7 linked regions of the Homo sapiens genome follow. The protein of the gene in region 1 interacts with the protein of each later gene in a biochemical or structural test. Each region holds a gene or a part of one and is shown in the gene's direction. Other genes may lie near its edges. The genes, in order: LMNA, NARF, TOR1AIP1, FBXO7, SMURF2, RNF123 and ZNF239.

Evidence for each region.
Region 2: the proteins of LMNA (region 1) and NARF form a complex in vitro, tested with the Homo sapiens proteins (one study listed by BioGRID).
Region 3: the proteins of LMNA (region 1) and TOR1AIP1 form a complex in vitro, tested with the Homo sapiens proteins (one study listed by BioGRID).
Region 4: of the proteins of LMNA (region 1) and FBXO7, one has a biochemical effect on the other in vitro, tested with the Homo sapiens proteins (one large-scale study listed by BioGRID).
Region 5: the proteins of LMNA (region 1) and SMURF2 form a complex in vitro, tested with the Homo sapiens proteins (one study listed by BioGRID).
Region 6: of the proteins of LMNA (region 1) and RNF123, one has a biochemical effect on the other in vitro, tested with the Homo sapiens proteins (one study listed by BioGRID).
Region 7: the proteins of LMNA (region 1) and ZNF239 form a complex in vitro, tested with the Homo sapiens proteins (one study listed by BioGRID).

Annotation. Positions count from the first base shown.
Region 1 is NC_000001.11:156,135,211-156,138,710, forward strand, and holds part of LMNA (lamin), read left to right. Parts: coding exon 1-102; intron 103-650; coding exon of another isoform or gene 651-690; coding exon 691-911; intron 912-1,003; coding exon 1,004-1,226; intron 1,227-1,710; coding exon 1,711-1,818; intron 1,819-1,902; coding exon 1,903-2,022; intron 2,023-2,443; coding exon 2,444-2,533; coding exon of another isoform or gene 2,534-2,554; exon of another isoform or gene 2,555-2,656; intron 2,657-3,277; coding exon 3,278-3,500.
Region 2 is NC_000017.11:82,475,741-82,479,240, forward strand, and holds part of NARF (nuclear prelamin A recognition factor), read left to right. Parts: intron 1-3,059; coding exon 3,060-3,178; intron 3,179-3,500.
Region 3 is NC_000001.11:179,913,285-179,916,784, forward strand, and holds part of TOR1AIP1 (torsin-1A-interacting protein 1), read left to right. Parts: intron 1-713; coding exon 714-770; intron 771-3,500. UniProt on the Homo sapiens protein: Required for nuclear membrane integrity. Induces TOR1A and TOR1B ATPase activity and is required for their location on the nuclear membrane. Binds to A- and B-type lamins. Possible role in membrane attachment and assembly of the nuclear lamina.
Region 4 is NC_000022.11:32,491,811-32,495,310, forward strand, and holds part of FBXO7 (F-box only protein 7), read left to right. Parts: intron 1-1,294; coding exon 1,295-1,471; intron 1,472-3,500. UniProt on the Homo sapiens protein: Substrate recognition component of a SCF (SKP1-CUL1-F-box protein) E3 ubiquitin-protein ligase complex which mediates the ubiquitination and subsequent proteasomal degradation of target proteins and plays a role in several biological processes such as cell cycle, cell proliferation, or maintenance of chromosome stability.
Region 5 is NC_000017.11:64,550,808-64,554,307, reverse strand, and holds part of SMURF2 (E3 ubiquitin-protein ligase SMURF2), read left to right. Parts: intron 1-2,603; coding exon 2,604-2,724; intron 2,725-3,500. UniProt on the Homo sapiens protein: E3 ubiquitin-protein ligase which accepts ubiquitin from an E2 ubiquitin-conjugating enzyme in the form of a thioester and then directly transfers the ubiquitin to targeted substrates.
Region 6 is NC_000003.12:49,703,057-49,706,556, forward strand, and holds part of RNF123 (E3 ubiquitin-protein ligase RNF123), read left to right. Parts: intron 1-370; coding exon 371-472; intron 473-1,593; coding exon 1,594-1,700; intron 1,701-1,927; coding exon 1,928-2,126; exon of another isoform or gene 2,127-2,130; intron 2,131-2,477; coding exon 2,478-2,623; intron 2,624-2,925; coding exon 2,926-3,009; intron 3,010-3,500. UniProt on the Homo sapiens protein: Catalytic subunit of the KPC complex that acts as E3 ubiquitin-protein ligase. Promotes the ubiquitination and proteasome-mediated degradation of CDKN1B which is the cyclin-dependent kinase inhibitor at the G0-G1 transition of the cell cycle.
Region 7 is NC_000010.11:43,571,817-43,576,016, reverse strand, and holds the start of ZNF239 (zinc finger protein 239), read left to right. Parts: upstream 1-1,400; 5' UTR 1,401-1,477; exon of another isoform or gene 1,478-1,974; coding exon of another isoform or gene 1,975-1,979; exon of another isoform or gene 1,980-2,339; coding exon of another isoform or gene 2,340-2,380; exon of another isoform or gene 2,381-4,200. UniProt on the Homo sapiens protein: May be involved in transcriptional regulation.

The DNA of each region.
Region 1 (3,500 bases):
GAGAGGAACAGCAACCTGGTGGGGGCTGCCCACGAGGAGCTGCAGCAGTCGCGCATCCGCATCGACAGCCTCTCTGCCCAGCTCAGCCAGCTCCAGAAGCAGGTGATACCCCACCTCACCCCTCTCTCCAGGGGCCTAGAGTCTGGGCCGGATGCAGGCTGGAAGCCCAGGGTTGGGGGTGGGGGTGGGGGTGGGAGGTTCCTGAGGAGGAGAGGGATGAAAAGTGTCCCCACAACCACAGAGAAGGGTCGCAGGATGTGGAGTCAGATGGCCTGTGTGCTGTTTCTGTACACTCTTACCTCACCTTCACTTCTCAGGGCTTTGGTTTTCCCATTCGAAAATGGAGGCTGTTCTTAATCTCCCTAACTCAGAGTTGCCACAGGACTCTGCAATGTGAGGTGTTAAAAGCATCAGTATTTTTCTAGTTGGCTGTGCTATTTGTGACAGGAGAAAAAGTCTAGCCTCAGAACGAGAGGTTTCAGTTAGACAAGGGGAAGGACTTCCCAGTTGCCAGCCAAGACTATGTTTAGAGCTTGTGATGTTCAGAGCTGGCTCTGATGAGGGCTCTGGGGAAGCTCTGATTGCAGATCCTGGAGAGAGTAGCCAGGTGTCTCCTACACCGACCCACGTCCCTCCTTCCCCATACTTAGGGCCCTTGGGAGCTCACCAAACCCTCCCACCCCCCTTCAGCTGGCAGCCAAGGAGGCGAAGCTTCGAGACCTGGAGGACTCACTGGCCCGTGAGCGGGACACCAGCCGGCGGCTGCTGGCGGAAAAGGAGCGGGAGATGGCCGAGATGCGGGCAAGGATGCAGCAGCAGCTGGACGAGTACCAGGAGCTTCTGGACATCAAGCTGGCCCTGGACATGGAGATCCACGCCTACCGCAAGCTCTTGGAGGGCGAGGAGGAGAGGTGGGCTGGGGAGACGTCGGGGAGGTGCTGGCAGTGTCCTCTGGCCGGCAACTGGCCTTGACTAGACCCCCACTTGGTCTCCCTCTCCCCAGGCTACGCCTGTCCCCCAGCCCTACCTCGCAGCGCAGCCGTGGCCGTGCTTCCTCTCACTCATCCCAGACACAGGGTGGGGGCAGCGTCACCAAAAAGCGCAAACTGGAGTCCACTGAGAGCCGCAGCAGCTTCTCACAGCACGCACGCACTAGCGGGCGCGTGGCCGTGGAGGAGGTGGATGAGGAGGGCAAGTTTGTCCGGCTGCGCAACAAGTCCAATGAGGTAGGCTCCTGCTCAGGGTCTAAGGGGATACAGCTGCATCAGGGAGAGAGTGGCAAGACAGAAGGATGGCATGTGGAGAGAGGAACATCCTTGCCCTCAGAGGGTGGACCAGGGTGAGCCTGTATATCTCCTCCACACTCTGGTTCCAGGCCTGGCTCCTGGACTCTTTGGCTGTGAGACCTTGAGCAGGTTATTTAACCTCTCAGAGCATCAGTTTCCTCATCTGTAAAATGGGGATGAATACTGATCCCTAAGTCTTTGAGTTGTCAGGAAGATGAAAGATAAGGTATCCGTGTGCCTGGTGCTGCGTATGTGTCCACAGATCATGGCTATTATCCCCGGGGGAAGGGCAGTGACAGGGGTGTGTGTAGATGGAAGGAGAGGCCTCAATTGCAGGCAGGCAGAGGGCTGGGCCTTTGAGCAAGATACACCCAAGAGCCTGGGTGAGCCTCCCCGACCTTCCTCTTCCCTATCTTCCCGGCAGGACCAGTCCATGGGCAATTGGCAGATCAAGCGCCAGAATGGAGATGATCCCTTGCTGACTTACCGGTTCCCACCAAAGTTCACCCTGAAGGCTGGGCAGGTGGTGACGGTGAGTGGCAGGGCGCTTGGGACTCTGGGGAGGCCTTGGGTGGCGATGGGAGCGCTGGGGTAAGTGTCCTTTTCTCCTCTCCAGATCTGGGCTGCAGGAGCTGGGGCCACCCACAGCCCCCCTACCGACCTGGTGTGGAAGGCACAGAACACCTGGGGCTGCGGGAACAGCCTGCGTACGGCTCTCATCAACTCCACTGGGGAAGTAAGTAGGCCTGGGCCTGGCTGCTTGCTGGACGAGGCTCCCCCTGATGGCCAACATCGGAGCCAGCTGCCCCCAACCCAAGTTTGCCAATTCAGGGCCCCTTTCTAGAGCTCTCTGTTGCAGGCTCCAGACTTCTCCACCCAGTAGGCAAACCAAAAGATGCTTCCTCAACAGCACAAGGGGTGGAAGTTAGACAGTGAGGATTGTTAAAGGCAGAGCCATACTCCTACCCGGAGAGCTTGACAGTGTCCCTCTGGGGTGGAAATGAGTTCCTTAGCTCCATCACCACAGAGGACAGAGTAAGCAGCAGGCCGGACAAAGGGCAGGCCACAAGAAAAGTTGCAGGTGGTCACTGGGGTAGACATGCTGTACAACCCTTCCCTGGCCCTGACCCTTGGACCTGGTTCCATGTCCCCACCAGGAAGTGGCCATGCGCAAGCTGGTGCGCTCAGTGACTGTGGTTGAGGACGACGAGGATGAGGATGGAGATGACCTGCTCCATCACCACCACGTGAGTGGTAGCCGCCGCTGAGGCCGAGCCTGCACTGGGGCCACCCAGCCAGGCCTGGGGGCAGCCTCTCCCCAGCCTCCCCGTGCCAAAAATCTTTTCATTAAAGAATGTTTTGGAACTTTACTCGCTGGCCTGGCCTTTCTTCTCTCTCCTCCCTATACCTTGAACAGGGAACCCAGGTGTCTGGGTGCCCTACTCTGGTAAGGAAGGGAGTGGGAACTTTCTGATGCCATGGAATATTCCTGTGGGAGCAGTGGACAAGGGTCTGGATTTGTCTTCTGGGAAAGGGAGGGGAGGACAGACGTGGGGCATGCCCGCCCTGCCTCTCTCCCCCATTCTTGTTGCATGCATATCCTCTCATTTCCCTCATTTTTCCTGCAAGAATGTTCTCTCTCATTCCTGACCGCCCCTCCACTCCAATTAATAGTGCATGCCTGCTGCCCTACAAGCTTGCTCCCGTTCTCTCTTCTTTTCCTCTTAAGCTCAGAGTAGCTAGAACAGAGTCAGAGTCACTGCTCTGGTTCTCTGTCCCCAAGTCTTCCTGAGCCTTCTCCCCTTTTATGTCTTCCCTCTCCTCCTCCGGGCCCCTAGCCTCCCAAACCCCCATTGCCCGCTGGCTCCTTGGGCACAGAACCACACCTTCCTGCCTGGCGGCTGGGAGCCTGCAGGAGCCTGGAGCCTGGTTGGGCCTGAGTGGTCAGTCCCAGACTCGCCGTCCCGCCTGAGCCTTGTCTCCCTTCCCAGGGCTCCCACTGCAGCAGCTCGGGGGACCCCGCTGAGTACAACCTGCGCTCGCGCACCGTGCTGTGCGGGACCTGCGGGCAGCCTGCCGACAAGGCATCTGCCAGCGGCTCAGGAGCCCAGGTGGGCGGACCCATCTCCTCTGGCTCTTCTGCCTCCAGTGTCACGGTCACTCGCAGCTACCGCAGTGTGGGGGGCAGTGGGGGTGGCAGCTTCGGGGACAATC
Region 2 (3,500 bases), on another chromosome or scaffold:
CCCTACCTAGCATTGTGTTCACTGCCACAGGCGGAGGGATCACCGTTTCTATACAAATCAGCAATCTGCTCAGGATTCACATCAGCAGAGTTAGTTCCTTCAGTGACTTGAGAAGGTTCCATCCCAGTAGGACCTCTCATAAGGAAATCAACAAATGTAAGGAGACTGCAAAAAGTTTGTGGAAGAACAGAATTAAAAGATAAAAAGTATAAACTTTATTTCTCAACATAAGCTCCATCCTGGTCAAGACTTTTTTTTATTTTTTATTTTATTTATTTATTTATTGAGACAGAGTCTCGCTCTGTCACCCAGGCTGGAGTGCATTGGTGTGATCTTGGCCCACTGCAACCTCCATCCCCCAGGTTCAAGTGATTCTCCCAACTCAGCCTCCTGAGAAGTTGGGATTGCAGGTGCATGCCACCATGCCCAGCTAATTTTTGTATCTGTAGTAGAGACAGGGTTTTACCATTTTGGTCAGGCTGGTCTCAAACTCCTGACCTCAGGTGATCGCCCGCCTCAGTCTCCCAAAGTGCTGGGATTACAGGCACTTGCCACCATGCCCGGCTAATTTTTGTATTTTTAGTAGAGACGGGGTTGCACCATGTTGGCCAGGCCAGTCTCAAACTCCTGACCTCAGGTGATCCGCCTGCCTCGGCCTCCCAAAGTGCTGGGATTACAGCAGTGAGCCACTGTGCCCAGCTAACACTTTTTTGTTTGTTTGTTTGTTTTGAGATGGAGTCTCGCTCTGTTGCCCAGGCTGGAGTGCAGTGGCGTGATCTCGGCTCCTCTGCCTCCTGGGTTCAAGCGATTCTGCTGCCTCAGCCTCCTGAGTAGCTAGGATTAGAGGCATGCACCACCACGCCTGGCTAATTTTTGTATTTGTAATAGAGACACGGTTTCACTTTGTTGGTCAGGCTGGCCTTGATCTCCTGACCTCGATGATCTGCCTTCCTTGGACTCCCAAAGTGCTGGGATTACAGGCATGAGCCACCACACCTGGCGTTTTTGAGACGGAGTTTCGCTCTTGTTGCTCAGGCTAGAGTGCAATAGCGAGATCTCAGCTCACTGCAACCCCCACCTCCCAGGTTCAAGCCATTCTCCTGCCTCAGCCTCCCAAGTAGCTGGGATTAGAGGCGCCTGCCACCACGCCCAGCTAATTTTTATATTTTCAGTAGAGACAGGGTTTCACCATGTTGGCCAGGCTGGAATAGAACTCCCGACCTCAGGTGATCCACCCGCCTCGGCCTCCCAAAGTGTGCTGGGATTAGAGGTGTGAGCCACTCCACCCAGCCAACAGTTTTTTAAGCAGGATCTTACTTTGTTGCCCACGCTGGAGTGCGGCAGCTCAATCATGGCTCACGAGAGCTTCAACCTCTTGGGCTCAAGTGATCCTCCCATCTTAGCCTTCCAAGTAGCTGGGACCACAGGCGTGCGCCACCAGCTAATTTTTATATTTATTTATTTTTTTTAAGACAGAGTCAGGCCAGGCAGGGTGGCTCACGCCTGTAATCCCAGCATTTTGGGAGGCCGAGGCGGGAGGATCTCCTGAGGTCAAGAGTTCGAGACCAGCCTGACCAACATGGTGAAACCCTGTCTCTACTAAAAATACAAAAATTGGCCACACACGGTGGCGCACACTTGTAGTCCCAGCTGCTTGGGAGGCTGAGGCAGAAGAATCGCTTGAACCCGGGAGCCAGAGGTTACAGTGAGCCAAGATCGTGTGACTGCACTCCAGCCTGGGTGACAGAGCAAGACTGTCTCAAAAAAAAAACAAAAACAACCAAAAAAACAACACAGAGTCTTGCTCTGTCATCCAAGCTTGGAGAGCAGTGATGCAATCATAGCTGACTCCAGCCTCGAACTCCTGGGCTCAAAGCCATCCTCCTGCCTCAGTCTCCCAAGTAGCTAGGACTACAGGTGTGCACCACCACGCCTGGATGATTTTTTTATTTTTCTAGAGACAGAGTCTCACCGTGTTGCCTAGGCTGGTCTTGAAATCCTGCCCTCAAGTGATCCGCCTGCCTCACAGTCCCAAAGTGTTGGGATTACAGGCGTGAGCTACTGCGCCCGGCCCTGGGGCATTTCTCTCTGTGGCTGCTTCTGTGTCTCTGTGGGTGTTTCCTGAGCACACACGGGCGTCTTTATAGGTGAAACTTTGATTGTTAAATGGGATTATCATGTCTGACTGTGGGACATGAGCTGCCTCTCACCCTCTGGGCGACCTTCCCCGCCAGGAGTAGAGTCTCCCAAGGTATCTACCCAGCCCCTGTTTGAGGGCAGGTTGCGTGGCTCTCATGTACACAGGTGTGCAAGTGTCTGTGGGGTCAGGTCCTAAAATCAGTTGCCAGGTCAGCAAGTTCTGTGATGTTCTTATGCACTCTGACTGGGCTGTACGCCTGCGGGAAAGGAGTAGGCAGGGCTCCTGCGGTGGAATTGCTGTTGTGTGGTCAGCTGCAGTGGTGACTTGTGTTCACCCTGGAAACCACAGCAGCACTCAACCTCAGGAAAGTGCTCAGATTGTGCGGGCATGTAGTGACACTACAGATGTTGCTATTTATTACGACTTGAGGAGTATAGATTTCTTATATTTTAAAAAGCGTGCAGTTGTTGGGCTGTTAGTTTCTCGCCGGTGAGAGAAGTTGGGCAAGCATGTGGCTGCTCTCCCCTGAGCGGTAGCTGCGTGTCCTGGCTGTAAGGACGCTGTAGCTGGCCAGGCGATTTTGCACGGTGCAGCCTGGGCCGCTGCTCCTGCTGCCTTTCAGTGCTTGTTCCCCTTCACCTTTTTGGGGGACCTGTTACTCCGACTCTTACTTGTCTGTCGGCCTTGCAGGGATGCTCCCATTTCCCAGTAGCCTCCAGGCCTGCAGGTTCCCATGACCCACAGCCGGGCCACCGAGGACGGGTTTTGGGTCCAGCACGAGCTCCTGGTAAGGCCTGGGGAAAAGGTGTTCTGGCTTCACCCTGGGGCGGCAGGGACTCGAGCTCAGCATTCCCTGGTGCGTTACAGGAAGACCAGAGGAAGCAGTAAGGAGCTGACCGTGGATCCCTTCTCTCCCCAGGCTGGGTCCGATACGCCGAGCGGGTGCTGGGTCGCCCCATCACTGCCCACCTCTGCACCGCCAAGTCCCCCCAGCAGGTCATGGGCTCTTTGGTGAAGGATTATTTCGCCAGACAGCAGGTAAGCTGACCTCTCTGGAGGGCAGGAAGGGCAGGTGAGGGAGGACCATGGCACAGGGGCCCAGGAAGGGGAGGTTCCCCATCTGTCCAGCGTGGTCACGGCCCCCCAGGTGAGCAAAAAGGAAGCTGTGGCTTCAGGAAACATCAGCAGTGCTGTTTCTCACCAACGCCCGTCTCTATTCCTCCCTTCCTCTTACAACCTTTTTCTTTCTTCTTAACCTTTTCTGTGGCATCTGGTGGTTTTCCTGGGCCCATTCGGGGTAGAGTAGAAATGCTGCCCACCCTGCTGAGAATGAGGCCCCGGACCTTGCCCAGAGATGCTG
Region 3 (3,500 bases), about 24 Mb from region 1:
TTAGATGAAAGTAGAAATTTGACAGAGTTGAGAGAAAATTATTTTTGAGCTCTATTGTTTAACCACAAGCCTAAAACAGAATTACTTTATTACTTGTCTATTAACAGAAATGATGAGAAGTTTTTAAATGTGATTTTAAAATACTACTAGTATTTGAAATGGTCAGAATCCCCAGAGGAAATACTGAATCAGTTTGAGGTAGAAAATAGTGAGGATTAAGATTTTTATATTAAAACACCTTATCCAGACAGCTCAGTAGTCTGTAATCCACATTTTGTCCTTATTTTCCCCCTCTTTACAGCATCTTCACCAGGCAAGAGTTCAATATATGGCAGTTTTTCAGATGGTATAATATGTTTCATTTTATTATGGTGTGCTTAGTTTCTTTGTCCTTTTTATCCCGGAAGTTTCACCAATCCCATTAGATACTTAATGGGTCAAATACTTCCAAACTTTCTCTCAAAACTAATTATTGTGTGCTTTGTACTAGACCCCACCATATGCTGTGAAAAGCTATGAAAGAAATAGGTCATGTGTTTCAAGGAGCTCTCAGTCTAATCGGCACTCAGATATTCTACTTTTTCTTCTGCTTCTGGCTGATCTCTGTCTTCTTTTTTTCCTGGTGGAATTTGTATCTTCTTTGTCTACTAGAAATAAATACTCAAATTATGAAGCATAAGTTGATAGTCTTATTTTATTACTCTCACCATTAGATGACAGCATTCTGAAATCAGAGCTTGGAAACCAGTCACCATCAACCTCCAGCCGACGTAAGTTTATGTATTCAGTTTTTATTAAATATTTCTGTAAAATTGGTATTCCATAATTGTTTAAAAATGTTTTTTGACAGCAGTATGACTCGATGCTATTTGAAGAATCACATTTTAAGCACTTGAGAGGAAAAAGTATATATTCTACTAGCAGTGAAATTCTTTATAGACAAACTTTATGAGACAACATCTGGTATTGCTCTTCACTTAACTGTCTATAAGACCAAAAATAATAGCTAAAATAAGTAAAGCTACTAATACTGTTAACTGAGAAAACCATGCTGAATTGAAAGAAAGTTAGCCAGAGCATGACTTTATGGGATTACAATGGCTTTCGGAGTCTGCAAACCTGTATTTGAACTAGATTGGACCACTTACCTCCTTTACAGCCTTGTGGCAAGTTTCTTTAGTTCTCCAAGTCTTATTGTCCTGAAAGAGTACTAAGAAAATAACTTAATGGGCTGAGCGTGGTGGCTCATGCCTGTAATCTCAGCACTTTGGGAGGCCAAGGCAGGCGGATCATGAGATCAAGAGATCGAAACCATCCTGGCCAACATGGTGAAACCCCATCTCTACTAAAAATACAAAAATTAGCTGGGCGTGGTGGCACACGCCTGTTGTCCCACCTACTCAGGAGGCTGAGGCAGGAGAATCACTTGAACCCAGGAAGCGGAGGTTGCAGTGAGCCGAGATTGTGCCACTGCACTCCAGCCTGGCAACAGAGCGAGACTCTGTCTCAAAAAAAAAAAAAAAAGAAAATAGATTAATGATGATTCTGAAATTTTTTGTTCTTGGTACCGCTTTACACTAGTAAAGTTATTAAGAACCTCAAAGAGCTTTTTGTTGAAAATATGGGTTATGTCTATCCATATGTACCAGGAAATTAAAGTTGAAACATTTTTTAAAATATGTATTAATTTATTTTAAAATAATTTAGCAAGAAGAGTAACAGATCAGATTGCTTTGCATTTTTTCTAATCTCTTTAATGCCTAGCTTTAAAAAATGGATTTGGATTATCATATATGCTTCTGTATGCAGTCTGTTACAATATATTATTTTTGTTGAAGTATCTACAAAAAATCCAGCTTTTATACAGATATGAAAAATTTTAATAGCCTCTTCAGATAATTGTGGCTATTCTTTTTTGAACTCTCCAAAACTCAACAAGTGGTAGTTTCTTAAATGTTACTTGAAATAGGATATCTAAAACCATCTTACTGAGCTTTTAGTACTCTATTACATTAAAAGTCATTGGTCTTTCTTATACTTTGAATGGAGTATCATGCACTGGTCATTTGGAAAACATTGGTTCACTGAGGAATGCAGATTTTCCAAACATTGACACATTAGGAATGTAATAAAAAATATCACATTTGTTAACATCACTGCCAATCTCAAGACTTTAAAAAAGTGTTAAAGGGTGGGGTTCGTGGCCCATGCCTGTAATCCCAACATTTTGGGAGGCCCAGGCGGATGGATCACCTGAGGTCAGGAGTTCAAGACCAGCCTGGCCAACATGGCAAAACCCTGTCTCTACTAGAAATACAAAAACATTAGCTGGGAATGGTGGCACGCACCTGTAATCCCAGCTACTTAGGAGGCTGAGGCAGGAGAATCACTTGAACCTGGGAGGCAGAGGTTGCAGTGAGCCAAGATCGCACCACTTCATGTCATCCTGGGCCACAGAGCGAGACTCCATCTCAGAAAAAAAAAAGAAAGTGTTAAAGTACAATATTGGGAGTTGTCAAGCTCATGGTGGCAGATTTAGGATTCTAAAATCCTAATTTTCACTTGAAAGCAAATATCTGCCAAATACACAAGTCTGACTGTAGTTTGTTACTTGTTCTTTCAAGTAAAAAATAGTATTCCATGAAAAATGTGCTAATTCGCCTTGTAATTCATTTGCACAAAATTCTTTTCCTTGAGACAACCATGGTACTGTATGATGCAGCAGAAGTGCTTTGTGCATACCTTCCATTTGTTCAGAAAGAATATTGACATATGTACTCAAGGATTCAGATTTAATAAGATAAATAATTAACTGCTTCATAAAGGACATTCTTAAGTAAAAGAATGTCCCTTTGTTAAATCTTGAATGCATGGCAGTGAAAAATAACAATGACTACACTCGTACAGTTTGGTGCCACTGCCCTGTAACTCATGCTAAGGCATCAGAAGTTTTTCTCACCATAGCTTTTGCGTCATCAGTGCAAATGTCAACACAAGGTGAAAGTCAAATAACATCTTAGTGTTAGAAGAATAGCTTTAACTTCATGGACCCCCCTCCCCACAAAATAGGGTCTTGAGGTACCCCACAGACCACGCCTTGAGAATTGCTGCTCTAAAAGGTCCCTACTAAAATTAATAGCCTGAAACAGTCAATAAGTAAAAGATGTAAAAGTATTATTGTTACTATCAACTGAATAAATGAAGTAGAATATGAGAAAGTACTTTATAAACCGAAAAGCACTAGATAAATATAAATTAATCCTATTATTATTGCCAATAGTAACTAGGGATGAGTCACAAACTAAATTTTACCAGTGTTAACTTGCATACCACAAAAGGCATCAGTGAAATTAATCTAAAGGGACAGCTAGCTATTATAACACGTAGAAGATGTTCATTTATATTGCATCCTTTTCTTTTTTTTTTTTTTTTTTTTTGAGATGGAATCTCTCTCTGTCACCCAGGCTGGAGTGCAGTGGCGTGATCTCGGCTCACTGCAA
Region 4 (3,500 bases), on another chromosome or scaffold:
ACTCGAGATCCTTATATTAGCTTCTCATTTTTTTGCAGTTAAAAAAATTAAAATCTCAGTGTCTTACAGTGAAATTTACTTCTCACTCGTGTACATGTTGTGTGTGGGTTTGCTTTGGCTGAAGGAGTTGTCTTTATCCAGGACATGCTCCTCTTGTAGTAGAAGGAAAGGAGTGCCAGTGGCCCAATTATGTGTTGGTTCAACGCTTTTGCCCAGAAATTATATATGTCACTTCCACTCACGTTTTGTCAGAAAAAATAAGACAAAAATGGCCAAGCCTGATGGTGGTGGGATGGGGAAGTATAATTATGCGTAGGAAGTGATTGAGAACCATAATACAATCTACCACAATTCTCCAACTAGTAGGTAGTTTGACTTATATGAATAGATAGTGGCTTTTATTTGCTCTCTATATGTAGAGAAATAAGTAAAACGTTTTTGGTGTCAAGTTGAATGGTGGCATGTCTATTATTACAGTAGTCTTCTCTGTAGTTGGTGATAAGGGAAAGGGAGTAATGCCAATTGAAAAACATGTAGATATGTCTGTTGGATTTTGATTATTTTTGCTAGTGGAGAATAGTATCACAAATATTTTGAAGGTGCTAATAACCAAAACATAATTTTCATTGAACTTGGGACATATTATTTTTCCTTTCCTTTCTTGGCTTTGTTTCTGAATTTATCTATCTCTTTTTAGCCTGCTAGACTTCAGATAATAGTAATTTGCTAACACTTGAGTGCTTATGCTTGGTGTGCCAAACATTGTTCTAAGCACTTAATATGTGTTAATACATTTACTTCTCACAACTCATTGAAGTAGGTGGAATGTAATATTAATCCATTTTACAGATGAAATTAAGATAGCATTTAAATAACTTGTCCAAAGGCACACAGTTAATAACTGGCATGGAAACAGATATAAAAGCCAGTGAATTATTCATTTTCTGTAGTTGAATGAAGAAATTTTGTTGTATTGAATAATGTTTGAGACAGAAGAGACCATTGGCTAGTATTTAGCAATTATCATAGTTATTTGATTTATATTAAAAAGCATTTGTCTTTCCACTAAAACATAAAGGGAATAAGGGCCTAGAGTTATATGAGTTAATAGTAATTATAGTCAAGCTGGGGTTAAAAATTTGTTGTAGATGATGCATACTTGGGGATAATTAAGAGTACCATCTAATTTTCTGTCACTTTAGAAAGGAACAAGTGGCAACTTTGTTGACTATGTGGAGAAAGCCAGATGTTCTTTACTCAGTAATACCTGTTACTTCTCTTTTTTTCCTTTTAGCACTGAACCTACCAGATGTATTTGGGTTGGTCGTCCTCCCATTGGAACTGAAACTACGGATCTTCCGACTTCTGGATGTTCGTTCCGTCTTGTCTTTGTCTGCGGTTTGTCGTGACCTCTTTACTGCTTCAAATGACCCACTCCTGTGGAGGTTTTTATATCTGCGTGATTTTCGAGGTGATTTCCGTAATGACATATTCACAAGAAAGGGCTCTTATTGTCTTGATTACTCAGCTCACCAAAAGTTTTTAGTTGTAGGATTTTTCTGTTGCAAATGATTACAATAAATAGCCTTAAAGAGACTGACTCTAAGCTTCATATACCTGTGCCTGTGTCCCTAAAACTCTCTCATTTTTGTGTTTTGCACAACACAAATCACTCATTAGACTAAGAAGATTATTTCAGGATAGAGAAATGGAAGTAAAACAGGCTTATTTTCTCACTAGAGACCATAGTCAGTATCTGACGTAGAAACGAGCTGGCATTTCTGAACTGCTTTCATGGTTGAGACCAATGTGTAAGTTAGGAGAGTTTTGTTGACCTGTTCCAAGTTGCTAGGGTAGCTTTATTTCTGTATGGTCACATTATGGTGACCTGGTAATTATTTTGGCAGTGATGATGGTAGAACTTGTGCATCAGGATTTCCTGCTACAAGGCCAAAAGCCTGATTGTGGAACTTTTTTTTCTGCTACCACCATTTTACTACATATTAGTGTTTTCAGAATGTTTGACCCTGGGGTGGGTCATGAAATCCATTTAATGGGTCATGTTACAAAAAAACAAAACCCACAATGGAAAAATCCATATTTATTTTATAAATAGTATTCCTATTTATAAAATAGGAGTAAACTTCTATTTCAATTATGTATAGGTAGGTGTATACTGTGTTGCAATGTAAAATTTTTATGTGGTTCACATAAATGTTTGAATGATACTGCTATATGTGATGTTAACACATACCACCTTAGTAACTGTAAAAATGTGGTGGGTAGATAGCTCCCTTAAAAAAAAAAAAAAAAAAAAGAATATCATGTAGAGTCATTTGGATTGCTAAAATTTTTTTTTCTTTTAAAATTTCAAAATGTGAGAAGTGTAAATGACCTGGTTTGTTCCTTTTCTTCTTCTTTGATTCCTGAGGTCCTCTTTCTGCTTTATTTATGCCCCTGAATTTGACATTTAAAATGTTATTTTGTCACAATTGGCAGCAAGAAAGCATCATCTCAAAAAATAATTCAATTTTATTTATTTGTGTATTTTTGAGACAGGGTCTAGTTGTGTTGCCCTGGAGTGCAGTGGCGCAGTCATAGCTCACTGCCACCCCCAACTCCTGGGCTCAAGTGATCCTCCCTCCTCAGCCTCATAAGTAGCTGAGAACTGTAGGCATGCGCCCCCACACCTGGCCAATTTTTGTTTGTTTGTTTGTTTGTTTTTAGTGGAGACAAAGTCTTGCAGTGTTGCTCAGGCTGGTCTCCAACTCAAAAAAGAATTGAAAATATAGTAAAAAAAGAAAAGACAGAATGACTGATGTATATGGAAGCACCGAGAAAAAGCAGAGTATGATATAAATACTTATAAAAGCAACAAATACCCTTTCACTTGTATATTCAAGTTTAGGATTAAAGCACAATTATTCTTTAATTTTTAGATTGTGGCCCACAAGCTCATTTGTAAGCTGTTCAGATTTTTCTGTAGATAAAATGTTACGGAGCTAGAGCTTTTATAAATCTTACTTCCATGCTAATGTAGTAACTTGTAGAGAAGATATCATCTTTTATTCAAACTCTTTTGTATACTTAAAGTTGAATGGGTTTCTCTTTCCTCATTTCACATATTTCAAATAAATAAGTACATTAAAAAATACTTAGTTATGGTCATGCTTCTGATAGCCGAGTCATTCAGGACATCGTTGGGAGAAAGTAGTGTAACCAGAATATGGATGAAAGCCTAAGTCAGCTTGACCTCCAGTAATGAACGTGGGCTGTAACACAGAAGCTCAGAGGTTGTTGCCCAGTTTGGTGTAACGTGAGATGTTGGATTAGAAGCAGGTGACACACCTAAATGAGATTAGGGGGAGAAGAGGTAGTGTAGGACCAGTTAATGCAGGAAGAGAGTAGCCACATGTTCCTCCATAGTCCCTGAGGAATCACACTGCATTGAATTACCATGTAGCACAGAGCAGCAATGATCACCCTTAACCATCAATAAA
Region 5 (3,500 bases), on another chromosome or scaffold:
GGCCAACATGACTTCTGCTGTCTACTTCTGGTTAAACTGAGACAGCCAGCCCAGTTTCATCATGGAGGAGGAGCTGTACAAATGTGTGAATACCAGGAGATGTGGGCACTGGGGCCACATGTGGTGTAGCTATCACAGGTGGCAATTCAGAAGGGCTTTTGTGCTTTATCTTACTAACACTTAGCCTGTTTATAAATGAGCACATTGTGAGTTTAGGGATAAATGTAAATAAATGTTTTTCAGATTTCATAAAGTAAAAATTGAGGAATTTTTATGTATTGGGCTAATTTGGCTTATGAGAAATAAAAAGTCCTCTAAATATAGAACTATGGTAATCAGTTTTGGGAGTTTGAACTTGAACTTTATGTACACAGAAACTTGCATGATATACTTTCTGTGTATAGATTATGTTCCCAAATCTTACTAAAATGTTTCCTAGTTTAAATATGAGGTCCACTTGATTGGAGTGAACACTGGCATAGCTTTTCTGGAAAGCAGTTTGATACCAGCAGCATGTGCCCTTCAACTAGCAGCTCTGTGTTTAGGGCTCTTCTGCAGAAACACACATGTAACTGAACGAATACGGGGAAAGACGGTCAATTAAATGCTACTTGTGAAAAAAAGTTACACTACTAAAATGGTTTTAGAGAAGAATGATTATATTATACATTCAGCAGAATATTATGTGGATATTTAAAAGTGCATAAGCTGTCAAATTTTAAAAGTAAGTCTTAGAAGAATTATGTAGGAACAAAATCCATGGTTTTTTTTTTGTTTTTTGTTTTGTTTTTTTGGGTTTTTTTGAGGTGGAGTCTCGCTCTGTTGCTCAGGCTGGAGTGCAGTGGCAAGATCTTGGCTCACTGCACCTCTGCCTCCCAGGTTCAAGTGATTCTCCTGCCTCAGCCTCCCGAGTAGCTGGGAGTACAGGTACGCACAACCACACCTGGCAACTTTTTTTTATTATTAGCAGAGATGGGGTTTCACCATATTGGCCAGGCTGGTCTCAAACTCCTGACCTCGTGATCTGCTTGCCTCAGCCTCCCAAAGTGCTGGGATTACAGGTGTAAGCCACCGTGCCTGGCTGTTTTTTTATGATTATACTGAAGATGTTCAGGAGGCTGCAACCAAATAAAGTTTTTGCCTAGGATGAGGGAGTGGAGATGATGCGACTGGAAATAGGAAGGAGAAAGAGGGTAAAAGAATGGACTTTCATATTTTACTGTCTCCATAGTTAATGTTTGATTTTTTTGTTATATACGTAAAAAGTATGTATTACGTTTCTACTTAAAAAAAATGAAAGAACAGGCTGGGTGCAGTGGCTCATGCCTGTATTCCCAGCATTTTGGGAGGCCAAGGTGGGTGGATCACCTGAGGTCAGGAGCTCAAGACCAGCCTAGCCAACATTGTGAAACCTTGTCTCTACTAAAAATACAAAAATTAGCTAAGCGTGTTGGCAGGCACCTGTAATCCCAGCTACTTTGGAGCCCGAGGCAGGAGAACCGCTTGAACCTGGGAGGTGGAGGTTGCAGTGAGCTGAGATCGCACCACTGTATTCCAGCCTGGGTGACAGAACGAGACTCCACCTAATATAAATTAAAAATAATAAAAAAAGAACAAATGAGAATTTCCTAAGTCTTAGCAGTGTCTCCTTTTCAAGACCTCGTGTGTCCTACTCAGTCCCTGGATCCCACTCTTCAGGGTTCAGTCGTGTTTACAGCACGTAATAATCCCTTGCCAACTACAGTTATTAGATTAAAAATTCAAAGAAAAACTTTTACAGTTACACAGTTTTGCTGTCCCCTTAACCCAACAAACAAAAATACGGTCCTCCAAAGGATATAATGTTAAGTAACTTATTTCTTAAAGTAGAGAACCATTTCTCCAAATTTGGAAATGTTAACAAATTTGACAGATGAGTAAGTTCTGTGATGCATGAGATGGAGAAGTTTTCTTGGGTAGATAAATAAAAACAATTCACTTATAAATCGTACATTCACACAATAGATGTAGTTTAGTGCATTTTTTTATTGGTAAAATTACATCTTCCAGAATTTTTATATCCTCTAGAGAACAATGATTATTTAATCAAAAAGTGCTTGCTATTGGCTTTTACTATTTATTCTTCTCATTTTTGGTATGAGGATTCTCTACCTCCTCTTCTCCCGTAGGCCTCCCTCAAATAGAAACAAAACACCCAACACATTCAAATTACATTTGCAAGTAAAATCAGAAAAATAAGTCATTTTTGAGTGAAAGAGCTCTTTATTCTAGTTATTGGCATGTATGCTGTAAGTTTAGAAAGAAATTTCATCAAGACTCAGCTCTAGTAGACGTCCTGTTTCCTGGGAGCTTCTCTGATTTGAAGGGTTGCTCTGCTGATGCTGCTTTTGTTAGTAGTTTACCACTTTTCATCAACATTGAACTGTGTCACACCTCAGGGTTCATTTATCCCCATTAGTCTGAGATTTATTGTTAGACTTGAGGCTAAACCGTTAATGTTAGATGCTTGTAAGATGCGGTGTTGCTAAAGTAGAGATTTATAATAATAATTACCAGATCTGAAAATACATGTGATTATACGAAATCCTGCCGAATGTTTACAGGCTCTATGTGAACTGGAGATTTTTACGAGGCATTGAGGCTCAATTCTTGGCTCTGCAGAAAGGATTTAATGAAGTAATTCCACAACATCTGCTGAAGACATTTGATGAGAAGGAGTTAGAGGTTAGTGCATTAGTATTATAACATCACTAGTGTAACAAGGAAGGATTGGGAATTATTTTGTTACTTAGTTTTAGAGGAAAGCATATTTCTGGTGCTTTCTAAGTTTCATGGTTCTATGCTTGAGAATTCTTATTCACAGGAAAAGTCTTTCATGCTTTTGAAGGCCTTTCATGCTTTGGAATTTCTGTGAGTGAACAATCTGTCTCTCTCTCTCTTTTTTTTTTTCTGAGACAGGGTCTCACTCTGTCACCCAGGCTGGGGTGCAGTGGTGCAATCATGGCTCACTGCAGCCTTGACCTCCTGGGCTCAAATGATCCTTCAGCCCCTCAAGTAGCTGAGACTACAAGCATGCACCAGCACCCCTGGCTAATTTTTTTGTTTTTTTTGGTAGAGACAGGGTTTTGCCATGTTTCCCAGGGTGGTCTCAAACTCCTGAGCTCAAGTGATCCGCCTGCCTTGGCCTCCCAAAGTGCTAGGATTATAGGCTTGAGCCACCATGCCCAGCTGTGAGCAGTCTCTCTTATATTGTGAAAATTTTTAATTTATTTTTCTATCCTGTACTTTCTTGTTTTAAACAGATTTCGTGACTTATATGTACATTCTTCCAATATATGTCTATTCCCTAACTTAGTGGTTACTGATTTAGTTAAGTAAAACCTCATTAATCTACCATTTTGAAATTTATTTGGGTAAGAGCCTACTCTGAATTAGTTTTACACTAAGCTTGCAAGAAAGCATTTGATAGACAAGATCATCGAGAAAATAACTAAAACACC
Region 6 (3,500 bases), on another chromosome or scaffold:
GGTGGGTGCTGGGGGGCCCTGTGTTTGAGTCCCCAAGGGTCAGTGGGAGCCTTACCTGCCCTGGATTGGGGGATATCCCACAGGACTGGGGCTGGGCCTCTCTGCTTCTCCTGAGTGAACGGCTGCCATGAGTACCCCCATCACCCCAAGTTATGCAGCTGCTGGCTCTGACCTGAAATGGCAGGGGTGGAGAAGAGGTAGGGGAGGTCTGTTTCTTGGTCCAGGAGACAGTTTCTCTGTCTGCCTGGATGGGTGAGTGGCCAAAGCCAGAATTCCCAGGCTGTGCTAGGCCAGATTGGAGGGGAGGGCTGTGGGGAGGGTCTTCCTACTGGGCCGTGACCACTGGCCTAGCCTCCTCAATTCCTCGCAGAGGCCTACATCCCGCCCCAGGTCTTCTATAATGGCAAGGTGGACTACTTTGACCTGCAGCGCCTGGGGGGCCTCCTCTCGCACCTGCGGAAGACCCTCAAAGGTGTGTACAGGCCTGTGGGCCGGGAGCAGTTCTGGGGCCAGGTGGGGGACTGTCCCTGAGCCTGCTCTGCTGTGGATGCTGAGCCATCCTATGGCCACCAGAGGGTGCCCAAGTCTTTCCACCCACTCAGGCAGGGAGACACTGATCTGCCTGCCCTACATCTGGGCAGCTTCTCTTTCCCGCCAGCACCCACGCCATAGGGGTCGGGCGTGCCTGGCAGGGGACCAGGGATCTTGGTGAGGTGTGGATGGGGCGTGCAGGTGCTGCCGGAGCTGCCTTCAGGGATGAGCACAAGCTGCCCCGGTGCAGGGCTGAGGGCACAGCGAGAGCAAGGCCCTGAGCCGGGCACAAGGGTGGGTCTGTGCTGTCAGAACCTCTCTCTGGCTGCCGCAGTGTATACGCCGGAGTGCAGGGGCTGAGAGACAGGGAGCCCAGGTGTCCCCACACAGGAGATAAGGGCCTGCCCAGGTAGGTAGGGGAGGGCACAGGTGGAGGAGAGGAGTCAGGATGACCCCAGGCTTCCTGCCAGAGGTTGTGTGGATGGGGTGCCATCAGGGAGAGGGGCTGCAGGAGGTGGTGGAGATGAGAAATTCTGTTTGGACACAGCGCGTTTAGCGGGGAGCAAGGCCTGGGCGGGGGGCAGCGAAGGCGGGGTCAGTTGTCAGCACGGTGGTGGGGATGAGCCTGGGATGAGGCTTGGCTCCCACTGGGAGTGCCCAGAATGAAGCAGCCCTGGCATCTCCTTTTGTTTATGGAGTAGTCAGAGAGTGGGGGAGGCCCTGGAGAGCAGGAAGTCCTGGGAAACAAAGCCAGGGACCAGCAGGAAGGGCATGATGGGCTTACATCTATGTAGAATAAAGAAAGTCAATTTGAAAATAAATGAAAAAGAAGGGTGTGATGGGGAAGGCCTCCTGTTACTGAGTGGCAGCTAGACGGGGCCCTTGAGATGCAGAGTGAAGGCTGGGTGGAGGAGGCGGAGGGGCGAGGGGCAGATACGGTGCTAAACCGGGCTCTGCAAGGCCTCCTGCCCAGTGTGCTGGGCTCTCTCACCGTCCTGGGCACTTCCACTGTGGCCCCTTGCGCCACCACTGGCCTGAGAACCCTCCTGCTCTTCCTCCCAGATGACCTTGCTTCCAAAGCCAACATTGTGATCGACCCACTGGAGCTCCAGTCAACCGCCATGGATGACCTAGATGAGGATGAGGAGCCAGCCCCAGCTATGGCCCAGGTGCCGCAGTGGGGGCAGGCGGTGGGATTTGTGTTGGGCTTATCCTGTATCTTATGGGCAGGGGTCTCATCCAGGGCCACTTCCCGCTCCATGCAGGCAAAGGGTTTCTCACTGGGCTGGTGCCTTGCTGTGGGTGGAGGCATGGACCCTCCCTCACAATTCTGCAGCCCCGTGGGCCAAGGGAACCCTGAGCCAGCCCTGGTCCTGGCCGCCTTTCTTCACTGCAGCGCCCCATGCAGGCCCTGGCTGTTGGGGGGCCACTGCCCCTGCCCCGGCCCGGCTGGCTCAGTTCTCCAACTTTGGGCCGAGCCAACCGCTTCCTCAGCACAGCGGCTGTGAGCCTCATGACCCCACGGCGGCCTCTGAGCACCTCGGAGAAAGTGAAGGTCCGCACGCTGAGCGTGGAGCAGAGGACCCGTGAGGACAGTAGGTGCTTGGTGGGGTCAGGCAGGTCCCCGAAGGACCCTTCCACAGTGTACAGTCCCCGATCCGGGCAAAGCCAAAATACACCCCATGCCCTCCCAGCCCTGTGGCCTGGCAGCATCCCAGGAGTGCAGGAAGCACACTCCGAGGGCAGGAGATCAATGCCGCAGAAATAGGTCCTGGCACCGCAGGCCTTGCCCTGCACTCCACCCCTACCCCCATGCCCCCATGGGCTCCCCGCGGGTCCCTCCTTGGGCACAGGAATGGGAGAGATGATTTCCTCTCCTGCTGTGAGGCAGGCTCAGGAGAGCCGGGATGGCCCTACCCTTGACCCTTCCCTCCCCAACTCCCCAGTTGAAGGCAGCCACTGGAATGAGGGCTTGCTGCTGGGGCGGCCCCCCGAGGAGCCTGAGCAGCCCCTCACCGAGAACTCGCTGCTGGAAGTCCTGGATGGGGCGGTCATGATGTACAACCTCAGCGTACACCAGCAGCTGGGCAAGGTCGTGCACTCTTGGACCCCGCATTGGGTGGCGGGTGTTGTGCGTGTTTGGTTGTGTGTGTATTCCTGTGTGCACATGGGCCCGCAGGGCTGCCTGTTCAAGACCGTGCATGGGAGCACATGCCTCAGCGAGGCTGGTTTCTGCTCCTGCTGCCTCAGTCTGACCTGCTGACTGTTGTGGGAATGGGACCGCCCTGGGCCTAAGGTTGGGACCTTGGCAGGGCTGGGGTCCAGACTGGGTCTGAAGAAGCCTGGATGAAGTGCCCAAGGGGCACTCTGGACATGTGGTCCCATGCTGTGTAGATGGTGGGTGTCTCCGATGATGTCAATGAATACGCTATGGCTCTGAGGGACACAGAGGACAAGCTCCGCCGGTGCCCCAAGAGGGTAAGGCCCACATAGTCTTGGTGAGGGGCAGCTTGCTTACTCGTACAGGTAACCACAGATGAAGTCTGGTTCTGGGGGCTGCCCTGGCAGTTCTCATCCCCACTCTAGCCCTGGCCATAGCACGCCAGTGAGAGTGGGGCTGGCAGCAAGGCCTGGCACCCATCACCAGTGTGGCCTGTGCCTAGGTGCCCCCCACCCCCTGGGCCCAATAAGTGCTGAAGCACACCCACTCTCCTCATCAATTATTCATTGACCCTGAGTGCTTCCTCGGCCACTTGCAGAGTCAGCAGGAAGCAGGGCCTGGCTCCACTGCACCCTCCGGAGCCCTCTGCTGTAGCTGCCCTAGCCCAGGAAGGTGGGGCCCAGTGTGTCCAGGCTGAGCTTCCCTGACAGCCCCCACCCACCCCGACCTGTCAGCAGATCCCTGGGTCTGGCAGCTGGGGGAGCAGCGGTTCTGGCATCAGGTCCCTGGGTGCTCTGGCCAGCGGCTC
Region 7 (4,200 bases), on another chromosome or scaffold:
GTTTTCCAATGAAGAATGAGGAGAGGAGTAAGGTCCAAGGGAGACATTTTGTGTTCCCCAGGCAAAAGGTAAGACAGCATCTCTGAGGAGGAGACCGAAGGGGACGTGGGCCTCTCCAAGCATCGCAGGCTGAAAATAATAGTCCCCCAAATATGTCCATGTCCTAACCCCCAGAAGCTGTGGATGTTAATTTCTATGGCAAGAGGGATTTTTTTTGAAATGTGATTAAATTAAGGATCTTGACGTCAAGAGATTATCCCAGATTAGCCAGCTGGGCCTGATGTAATCACAACAGTCGTTATTAGAAGGACCCACGAGGAGCCAGTGCCTGAGCATGTGATGTGATGATGAAGGCAGAGGTTGCAGTCATGCACTTTGAAGATAAAGGAGCGAGCCATAAGCCAAGGAATGCAAATAGTCACTGGGAACTGGAAAAGGCAAAGAAATATTCTCATCTAGAACCTCCAGGAGGAACTAGCCCCACCAACACTGACTTTATAAAGCCCAGTAAAACTTGATTTCAGACTTGGCACCTCCAGAAGTTTAAGAGAATACATGTTTGTTATACTACTAAGTTTGTGTTAATTTGTTGTGACAGCAATTGGAAACTAATACACCAAGGAAGGGGGAGGATGTAGAAGAGAGGTCCAGGCAACATCTCTTTCCTCTCCAAAATAAATCTGAAAGAAAGGAATTGGGAAAAGACCAAATGGGTAGCTCTGTGTCACTCGGTGAGAAGTGAAATAAACGTAAAATCCTGGTATCAACAACCCTTGTGTGCGTTTAGGAGAGTTCTGACTGCTGGGAGCCACTTGTCTAATTCCCTCACCTCCTGTGTTTGTTCCAAGATCCCCTATTTAAAATTGCAAAGTACACCTCCAGTCCTACACACCCACAAACGCACCTCGCCACACCCCGCCCAGCTCTATGCTTTCAGTACCACCTCATGACACACACGACGCCATATATTTACTATATTTATGGATTGCTTGTTTCCCCAACTAGAATAGGGCAGTGACTTTTGTGCAAGCATCTTGAACAGCTCCTGGTACACAGTTGGCTCTCAATTAATATCTGTTAAATGGATGAACTTCAGAGGTGAGATGGAAGATGCCGAATGGCAAATATTCACTTCAGAATGTTTTGAAAGGTAAAGATGAAATTATGGGTATTTACATCCTTTTCCCCCAATAGTATTTTAACAAATGAAAATCACCTTAACAGGTATTCCTAAAATAATTCTTATTTGTTTGTAATAAAAAACGAGGAGGAGGACTTGAATACACGCGTCGCTGACTCAAAGATGGTCCCCTCCGCCCAAGAATCCCGCTCCGCACAGCGCAGAGTTCAGGGGCCCGCGCCGGAAGTGGGCGTGGTTCGCCCGCGGCTTGCTGGGACTTGTATTTCGGGGCCCTAGGCGCGCGAGCGGTCAGCATCCGGAATCTGGCCCCTGCAGGCGTGGGGTTCCACGTGGGAGGTGAGACTGGCCGGGCTTCCCCAGCCGCTGGCAGAGGCGTTCAGGGGTCAGGAAATGGGTGTGCCGCGGGTAAGGCGCTGGGCCGCCGAGCTGCGGAAGCCGGGAGGGCGGCGATGGTAGGGCACGCGACCAGCGGAGGCGCGGCCCGCGGCGGCACGTGTGTCCCGGCGCCGCATTTCCGAGCTGCTGCGCCCCCGGGGCCGGGCTGCGGCCACACCGAAGCCTGTGGGGCCCTGCAGCTGAGCGGCCGCGCCTCCGATGGCCCCTCCTCCCTCCTGGCCGAGCTCTGGCCTGGGCCGGCTGGGGGCTTCGTGGTTGGCCACGCCGGCCTTTTCCTCGCCTGTGACGGGCGTTATTGCAGGGGGGTTTTCGGTGGACGTTAGGCGACGGACGGGGGCTCCTGTAAGAGACTGAGGTTTCTGTCCGCAGCACTGCCTTCGCTGAAAAGAGCTTGCATCTGAGCCCCCGCACCGCAGGAACGAGCCAGGCTCCTGAGAATGAGGTCGGGGAAGGCGTCTTGGGCAACCGAAATCCATCCCGAGAAGCTTCTCCTCTTAACTAGAACTTTAGGACAGAGATCGGGAAAGTCAGAGGAAATGGGCACGGCTTCGAGCTGCCGGCGGCTGCGGAATTTACCTAGCCTCTTGGTTTTGGGGGGAAAACTTGGCTTGTTTAATCGAAAGCCCTGTGGAGAGAGATGAAGGTGGTGACAGAAAATGCTTCACCTCTCACCTGATGGAGGGAGTGTGGGTGGAAGTGACTGAAGAAGCGTCAGAGGCAGGAGCGGAGTAACTTTTTCCCCGCAGTCTTGCTGGACTTGATTTTCATGGCTTTTTCTCTTTCCCTAACTCTGCCTTTCCAGGAATCCATCCCCTCTGGGAGTAAGAAATGACCAGGGTCCGGGTGAGTTGGCGTTCCATTTCTCCTAAAATGCCATCTCCCTGAAATGTCCCTGTGCCATGTGTTGTTTTCTTTATTGTCAGGCCCCCAGTACGGTATTTTATAGCTATGGATGTAGGGACATTAAGATACTAAGGACATGTAGCTAGCAGATGATGTCACCAGGGTCTGCACAGAGAGTTTTCACTGGCCCATCCTGCCTCCAAGAATTTATTCCACTCCTCAGAGCAGTGGGCTGTGCCCTCCTGGGGAGCCTCTCAAAGCCTGCCTTTTCCTGCCAGACATTTCACTCACATTGAAAGTCATTCCAAGCTATTCCATACTCATCCCAGTGCTAAGTGGTCTCAGCAAAACAGATAGAATGATAAACCACGGTGCTTTTCTTCAAGGAGCTTACCATCTTGATGAACATATTATATTACCTGTACACAAAAAAATGCATATTAATAGTGATAATTTATTAACTATGAGTCAAAAACGAGGAAATTCGTTAAATGGCAGCACAGTGGTTACAAAATCACTCTAGAAATGCTTTTCAACTAGGCTATGCATCAGAACTCTCTGTGGTGTTTTTTAAGAACTAAGCTTCCTTCTCTCTTCCAGACCTAGTGAAAGGAGAGTTTCACTCCTTTTTTATTCTGTTGATCTTTGTACATCCAAAGGTTTATTGTGAAATATCTCTCTATACACTATAAGTGTCTCTAGGGTAGGTAAAATGAGTTATTCATCCTTTATACTCAGGTTGATTTGTTCTCTTTCACTAGCATGTCTACATATTTAACTGTTCCAGTAAATTTTAAATTACCAAGTCGTACTTTTTTAAAGAGAGTTTTCAGTTGTCCCCATAAAACCATCTGTAGGAGGTTACCTCAAAATTAACCCTTAGACTCCCAGGGTATTTGAGATGGTCAGCCCCCACTTAGAATCCCATGGTGTTTGAGATGGTCGGCCCCCTCTTTGCCCTGTCCTGGCGTTTTATGGTGGAGAGCTCTAACTCGGCTAACTCTGAGAGAGCCGAAGGAAAGTGCCTTGTCCTTTGTTTCAGAGAGCAGAAGGCCAGAAATAAACCCCGTGTTTTCTTCCTTCAGGCTGTTCTTTCTCCATTAACTAAACAGGTCATCACATCAGAAGTTGTTTGAATAAAATATCAGACTGCGTTTTAAGGGAAAAAAAATGTTTTTTAACACTACCAGCAAAGGCCATCTTTTTGCTTGGCAAATACAGCCCTCACACACATGAGCTCTTAGAAAAAATCTGTTTAGAGGACAGTAAGCTGACTTGAGGTACTGAGAGCATGGCTTCTCTGTGCCCTGAAAAGTAATTGAGGACTTCAAGGGAGATTAACCTTAGTAGAATCAATACATTTTCCTTCCTTCGCTTCTGCCTGCTCCCTAATGATTAAGTATTCACTGCCGCTGCAACTGGGGATTGCCAGTTTAGTAAATTTTGAGATTCTGGTGTGTGTTACACAACAACTTTTTTAATTTAAAGGAAGGACTTCATTCCAAGCATTGTGTGTTTTCTATGTACCACACATTGTCCTTAGGTCTGCTGAAAGGCGGGAGTCTTAGTTAACCCTGCTTTTCCTCTGTGACATTGGGTAAGTCACTTCGCCCTTATGAACTGTGGTTTTTTTCTCTGTAAACTGAGGGTCTTGGGCTTGACCATCTTTATGTTTTCTTTTAGTTGTATTATTATTCATTTAAATTGAATGTGAATTTATATTTATCTTTCAGATTCCAAGTCAATTGTGGTAGTTGCTGGGGATTTAAAGATGAGTTGAGGCCAGACATGGTGGCTCACACCTGTAATCCCAGTACTTT